Linked DNA regions of Homo sapiens. The protein of the gene in region 1 purifies or fractionates together with the protein of each later gene. This does not show direct contact. Each region holds a gene or a part of one and is shown in the gene's direction. Other genes may lie near its edges.

Region 1 (3,850 bases):
AACCTAAATCAGCTCAGCTCATCTTGATTATATCTCCGAAATTAGGCTTCATTGGACTTAAGAAAAAAGAGAATGTATTAATATAAAGAATGGGGCAGGAGTTATCAGGAGAATTTTTCAACTTTCATAATGGGCAGGACAAAAAAACTTCCACTCATAGCTCCAGTCTAACCAGTGTATATGGAATAAGGACTCAGGCATTATACCTGGAGCCAGACAGACTTGGGTTCAAAACTGGTCAGTTGCTCACTAGCTGTGCAGCCTTGAAAAAAGATCTTCACATCTCTGTGCCCATATTAGGTAAGATTCTTTTGATAGCAAATAACAGAAACTAATTCAATGTACCTTTACCAAAAAAGGAGAATTTAGTTTAAGAAACTAGGGCTATTTAAAGCAATTCAAAGAGTTTAAAAGAGCTAGGAAGGGCTTAAGGGGAGAAGATTGAAAACCAGGTTCGGGCCAGAACCCCTAGCTTCAGGAATCTGTGGACTGTGCCTATGGATTTGGATTCCTGCCATTTTACACATGTTATCTCTCAAAACTTAGACTTTTGCTCCTCTGAGTTTCAATTCTCAGGGCAATTTAAAGAGAGAGAAACTGATAGTCCCAATTTAGTTCAGGTGTGTGTACCTGATCTAAACATTTTTGGTGAAAGGATCAGATTATAGGGCAGAAACATGGATATGGGGAGGGGCTCCAGGGGTTGGGGTATGCAATTCTTGTAGAAGAGCGGGGCTAAATAATCCAAGAGTGGTGTTCCCTTGAGAGCCTTGGGTTCTTCATCATATTATGAGAATAATTCTACTTACCTTTCAGGATGTTATTAGAGTCAAAGTAGATAAGGAAAGTGAAAACATTTTTTAAAATGTCAAAACATGCAAATGAAGAGTGTTGTATACATTCAAGTTCCACCAGCCAGACAGTCCCTGATCCAAGCAGTCAGATTCCCCTTCTAACTCTTCTTCCATGTCATATGGGCTGAAAATTCAGAAAGTCCTGGGAACAAAAAGATTCAAGGTCTCTTACAGTGGTGTTCTGGTTAACAAGCTCTACAAGATTTAAAAAAAAAAAAAAAAGCCCTAAAGCGTAGCATTTACCAACTTTGTAATTTCTGTGGTTTAAATACTGCTACCACAGTTGATTTCAATAAACTAATGGTTTCACAAAAAGCTTGCAAAATTTCTGAGTACTTAAAAATCCACAAACTGGCTTGGGCTTCAGCACATCCTGCCTGAGGGTAAGATTTCCAGGAAGTGATTAGCAGAAAAAATGGTCCTCTGGTCCAGCCCAAGCATTTCTGACAGCTCAAAGCGAGCATCTTGGAGCTGGACAACCCAAGCTGGCTCAATTAATTCCATCAGCAAAGTGCCCAGTGCTGTGCTGATCACCATGGGAAATGCAGAAGGAGTGTAAGATATGAGGCTAGAACACAGGAAATGGTGAAAACCAGGATAAAAATTGCTCAATTAAAACATATAGGGGAAGTCCAGGAAACTTTTATCACCTCTGTAGTCTGAGCAATCTTTTAGCGATCTGAGATCAGCTTCACAGAGGAGACAAAACTAGAGTTCTAGAGACCAGATTGGTAGAGCTTCTAGAGCCTCTCCACACATACAACCAAGAGGCAAGCTCTGATCTGGTCAATTCTCTGCCAATTTTTAATCTTATGGGATTTGAGTTGCATTGATTCTGCAGATGTTTCACCCTGACCAGAATGAAAAGATCTCAGAGGATTGCAGGTAAACCGGCCTTAGCCAAGGAAGGACCAGATGCTGGGACTATCTCTCATTCTCTCCGGCAGCAGTACAACAGTAATAATGGTAAAATGGCCTCTAGAATGTATGCAATACTTACACTCTTCAAAAAGCAATTATCCATGACAGGTGACGTTTTATCTTACTAACATTGCGCGATGAGGTAGAGTCAGTTTACAGATGACAGCAAGGGGGTTAACTACCTTGCCTAATGTCACTCCACTAGAGTCAAGTCCAGGACCCAGGCTGGTCTCACTCCAAAACTAGTGTTTTTGTGTCTACTTGCCTCCCTCCCTCCCTCCCTCCCTTCTTTTTCTTTTTCCTCTCTTCTCTTCCCTTCTCTCTCTCTTTCTTCCTTTCTTTCTTCTTTTTTTTTTTTTTTTGAAGGTCTTCTCCTTACCCAAGCTGGAGTGCAGTGGTATAATCATAGTTTATTGCACCCTGGAACTCCTGGGCTCCAGCAATCCTCCTACCTCAGCCTCCTGAGTAGCAGGGACTAAAAGTGCACACCACCACACCTGGCTACTTTTCTTTTCTTTTCTTTCTTTTTTTTTTTTAGAAACTGAGTCTCTCAATGTTGCCCAGGCTGGTCTCTTAACTCCTGGCTGCAAGCAATCCTCCTGCCTCAGCCTCCCAAATTGCTGAGATTACAGGTGTGAGCCGCTGCACCCGGCTGTGTTTTATCCTTTCTATCTCATAACTACTTCATTCATCCTTTCATGAGATACTTATAGAATACCTGCCATGTGGCAGGGATTGTGCTAGACATGGAGATACCAAAGTTAGCAGACCAATCTGTTTATCACAATTGATGCGGCTGGAAGTTACATGAAGTTCTTCTCTGTAGCTCTGCCAGAGTCTAGAAGGCTGGCACCTGCACTGGATGGTTGTGCAAAGGACTTTGCCACGCGCAGACAGGTACCTCTTACCTTAGGACTCTTGCTGAAGCTGAATCCGATAATTGGAAAGACAGACCAGCCAAGGTGCCCGCCATGAACCGTTGCTAGAGAAGGGTCCCTGAGCATCTCAGGCAGTTGATATACTAAGTCTGACCCCAGCAAGTCTCTGGGCTGTTCGTTCAGGCTCACACACGATCATAACCCCATTTTGTTCCCAGAGCATATGATGGACTGTGGCGCCCCCTCCAGGACGCAGCTTAGCTTCACTGCCTAGAAGCCGCTCTTGCAGTGAGTCTGTGAGGCCTCAGGAGGTCAAGGCTGCTCACTGGCTCCCTCTGTAGAACTTCTTCTTCATGACTCTGCCTCCTGGGGCATTCAGGCCCCTTCCCTGGATCCCTTTGTTCTTTGTTGGCTAAACCTTCACAGCATGAATGCCTCACTGTCTCATCTTATAACATCCTCCTCACTTTCAGACCCTGTACCCAAGCCTGTCATCAAAATTGAGAAGATAGAAGACATGGATGACAACTGTTATCTGAAACTGTCATGTGTGATACCTGGCGAGTCTGTAAACTACACCTGGTATGGGGACAAAAGGCCCTTCCCAAAGGAGCTCCAGAACAGTGTGCTTGAAACCACCCTTATGCCACATAATTACTCCAGGTGTTATACTTGCCAAGTCAGCAATTCTGTGAGCAGCAAGAATGGCACGGTCTGCCTCAGTCCACCCTGTACCCTGGGTAAGAAGGATCCCTGGGAGCTGAGGGGGGCACAGGGTAACTGGAGTTGTTTTGAACAAAGAAAGGCTGGGGGTCCTATTCAGCCTCCTTGCACAGTGTGGTGGTGAATCCCTAAGGTGTCTGGGAGAGCTGGGAGACGTGGGTTCTGCCACCAGCTCTACCACCACCTCCCAGCCAGCTTACCTCAACTTCGTGGGGGCTCAGTGTTCTCACCTGCAAAGGACGTTTGGGAGAGATCTCTGATACTCCTCTTCCCTCTCCCGCTCTAACAAAGCATAGTCCTAACATCTGAGGCCAGGGTCATCATAGAGTAGACTGAAACATCAGGGTGAGCAGGGAGAAGGAAGGGCAAGTGGGCGAGCAGCTGTCTAGAGGGGCTTCATTAGACAGCCGAAGTCAGCCAAGGAAAGAGGGACCGAGGTCATTAGACCGCCAAAGTCAGCCAGGGAAAGAGGGA
Region 2 (3,850 bases), on another chromosome or scaffold:
TTAAGACAACCAAAAACATCTTCAGACATTGCCAAATATTCCCTGGGGAGAAAAGCACCCTGGTTTGAGAGCCACTAATCAATTTTGTTCATTCATCTTTACTCCTCCTAAATACCTACATCCAAATTTTAAATAGATCTTTCTCATGTAGTCTGGCAAGTATTATATCAAAGATAAATACCAGTTTTAGAATAAAGCATTAATATACTCTTACATTTCAACTTAAGAGGCAAATATTAACAGTAGGATTTGTAAACTATTTATTAGACTAAAAATCAATGAATTTTTAAAAATTACAAAATGATTTATGTATGTTAGATATTTTACTGAGTGAAAAAATTCATGCTTTTTTAAATGACTTATTGTTTGGAGTAGTGATACAGTAGATTTAATTTTCCCCCTCATTAATTAAAATCATGTTTTAGCCAAGAAAGTGAACAGAATTCTTATTGGCAATTCAGTTGTTTCCCATTTTGGAGACTGACACTCTCCAGTTCTAAGTTAAATAATTGTCATGGTAAAGTAATTTCCTTGAAAAGAACGGACATTGATTCAGCCCCTGTTACTCACAAATCCTATTTGAGTCAAATTGGAAAACTATTACGTTTTTGGGAAAAAAATCAATAGGTATCAGGAAACCATTAGATCTTGTGGCCCTTGCTATATCTTGCATGAGTAATCACTGTAAACAGCTGACCGGTATTTCATTGTTGACACAGAGTGATGCTTGGGGGACCACATCTTGTCAGAGCAGGTGGACAGCTTTAGACGTTGGAATGAGTTTGATTATCCTTGTTTTTCTCCTACACTCATTCTTTTAGACAGCCCTGTCACTAACTGGGCCTGTGATGCTTTCAAAAATCAAATACTTTCCTTGCTGTCAGTTTTCTTTTTCTTGCGTTGTGGCATACTAATCAGGGTATGTGGTTTGGTACTGAACCAATTTCTGTCAAAAGCAAGTTTTAATTTATTATTTAGGAAAAATTTTTCCTAAGACCCAGGTTTTATACAGTCCTAAATAAATAGTGTGAGGAATAATTAGTAATGCCATAGAGTATATAATTTTACTTCTAGTTCTACACAGATTACAAGTAAATTTTTTTTGGGCAAGTGATTTTGGAATTATCTATGTTTTGTTTTCCTTTTCCTTTAGAGTGATAATTCACTATTTATGATTGAATGATTATCATATTAAAGAGGTGAGAAAATAAAAATAAGTCTGATGTGCACAAAGCCATACTGCTCAAATTGTTTGATAATATCTGTTAATTAAATTATTATGGCATCGGTAGAAGAATGATGTTTTGTTTATATGTGGTTAGAATTGGTCTTTTTTAAAGGAAATAACGAGAGATGGAAATGGAATGGGTATAAATAGTAAAAGGTTCTATCACTATAATTCCCTTTTGCTATAAATAGTTAAAGCTTCTATCACTATAATTTCCATAAGAAGATATATGTGTTTACCTGTTAATTTTATCAGGGCAAATTAAAACATGGATAGAATCATGTTTCTCAGTGTGAAGAAATATTTTTATTTGATGAATATTATATATTTTCAGGTGCAGTGGCTTCTATGTTTTGGGTTGATGCTGAATTAGGGAGTGATATTTACCTTGATGGTAAGTTAAAAAACAGTTTTCTTTTATCTTTCTTGGTTTTTTTTTTTGTTTTTTTTTTTTTTTTCTGAGACAGAGTCTCACTTTGTTGCCCAGACTGGAGTGCATGGAGTGCAGTGGCATGATCTCGGCTCACTGCAATCTTTACCTCCTGGGTTCAAGTGATTCTCCTGCCTCAGCCTCCCGAGTAGCTGGGACTACAGGCGTGCACCATCGTACCTGGCTAATTTTTGGATTTTTAGTAGAGACGGGGTTTCGCCATGTTGGCCTGACTGGTCTTGAACCCCTGACTTCAGGTGATCCGCCAGCCTCGGCCTCCCAAAGTGCTGGGATTACAGGCGTGAGCCACCACACCCTGCCTCTTTTGTTTTTTAGTAAAATCTTTATGGTTAAGCTTATTGTTGTTCATTCATATTATAACTTTAATTCCTTGCATTGTTGTTCTTTTCACACTTTAGTTTAATGATGAAATCTTTGTTCATATAGATTAAAAAACCCCAAACAGTGGTGGAAATCGATGTCACTCAACTTCCAATTTAGTGCTTCCACTAAGGTTTTCTTTAAAAAAAAAAATGCTTTGTAGGTTTTCTGTATCCTCTGTTGTTTGATTTATGCCCTTAATATAATGTTAGAGCCTTTTATTTTAATCCTCCAGGCAATATGAGGATCATATTTTTGCTTTTATTTTCTCTTGAAGATAAGAATTAAACACTCCTCCCTTACTTTATTTACCTGAACACTTTTGGGCAATGATATGCCTTCATTTAAAATATATTAGAAACTTTCTTAGTTAAGCGACTATGTTTTCTCCCTTTCTCTTTCCCTTTTTCACCTTTTTAAAAACCAGTCGAAATTTTCTTACTTTTTCAAAAGTAATAATCATTAAGAAATTTAAGAATTATTAAGCTGGGCCCCATCATTGAGCTCTAATATATGTGGCGGGTAACTGGTTGAATTCCTTAGCATAATTAAACTCATTCTTTTGTTATCAGCATATATTCAGAGATTGCAAAATGAATTGGTAGTTTGGAAACTTAGGCATATGTTATGTAAAACATTTATGAGCTGGATTTGGATTTGGATTTGGTGAGAGATGTTAGGAATGATACCTTAAGATGTCTCATTCTTTAGGCAATAATTTAAATCTTAAGAAAAGTCTTGATTTTGATTATGTGAAAATAAACTAGAAATAACCTGTCTTATGTACTTATCACATTTGACTATGTTATGAAATTTGACTTATATTTTGGATTGTAAGCTTTTTCAGTGCCAAGGAAATCTTATTTTCTTATTTATTTAATTTAAAATTTTTATTTGTTTTATATCTTCTCTAGTGCCTTAAAATAGTGCTAGCCACTCAGGAAATGCATTGACTTATTACTGGAATTTAATTAAATGGCAGCACTGGCAAGAGAAAAAAACAGTACATTGTTTTATTGAGTAGTATTTGTGAACTGAAATAGGTTAGTTTTAATTTTCATTCTGAAGTATGGTTGCACAAGTATTAATAAGCATTCTTTTTAAAAAGTGATTAAAATGTTTTTTCCTTTGTAGGTATCATAACTATTGTGGATTCAAAATATGGATTAAAAGTAAGTTGAAAGATTGCTATGAGTGGCTCATTATTGAGAGCTGGGAATATGGGGATTGATTGTTTAATTTTCTTTATGTTTGTATCTGAAATTTTCTTTAACAAAAACCTTTCTCAAAAAGATATCCTGAACAATAGGTGAAATTTGTGTTTTAATTATTAGTTTGTGTTAAATATTTCTTTTCTATTACTCTGAGTTTGATTTGGTGATAAAATTTGGAATTATAATTTGTAATAAGCATATGGGGTTAGGATAGAGTTTGGTATGTATAGCTCTTCACAAGGATTCAACCCCAATATTGCTAAGTTTTTCTGTTCCATAGAAGAAGCTGAGCTTGATAAAGCATCTGAGATCTTATTTTTCTTGTTAAATTACTATTAAACACACACTGGAAATGAGTTTTTAAAAAATATTGAAGACCTAGGTGATGGGTTAATAGGTGCAGGAAACCACCATGGCACCCGTTTACCTATGTAACAAACCTGCACATCGTGAGCATGTACCCTGGAACTTAAAATTTAAAAAGTACATATTGAAGAAAATCAGGATATACACATAGGATTAGTAAGAAGACTCTCTCCATTAAAAGGCATCTTGCATCGCTTCTTGGTCTTTTGGCTAAGATCAAGTGTAAAAGAC

The links. Proteins that work in one complex are often made in the same cells at the same time.
Region 2: the proteins of CD48 (region 1) and ZNG1C purify together in Homo sapiens (affinity purification with mass spectrometry; one large-scale study listed by BioGRID and IntAct). This does not show direct contact.

What each region holds. Positions count from the first base shown.
Region 1 is NC_000001.11:160,680,745-160,684,594, reverse strand, and holds part of CD48 (CD48 antigen isoform 1 precursor), read left to right. Parts: exon of another isoform or gene 1-1,389; intron 1,390-3,126; coding exon 3,127-3,393; coding exon of another isoform or gene 3,394-3,500; exon of another isoform or gene 3,501-3,850. UniProt on the Homo sapiens protein: Glycosylphosphatidylinositol (GPI)-anchored cell surface glycoprotein that interacts via its N-terminal immunoglobulin domain with cell surface receptors including CD244/2B4 or CD2 to regulate immune cell function and activation.
Region 2 is NC_000009.12:68,255,359-68,259,208, forward strand, and holds part of ZNG1C (zinc-regulated GTPase metalloprotein activator 1C), read left to right. Parts: intron 1-1,562; coding exon 1,563-1,622; intron 1,623-3,173; coding exon 3,174-3,211; intron 3,212-3,850.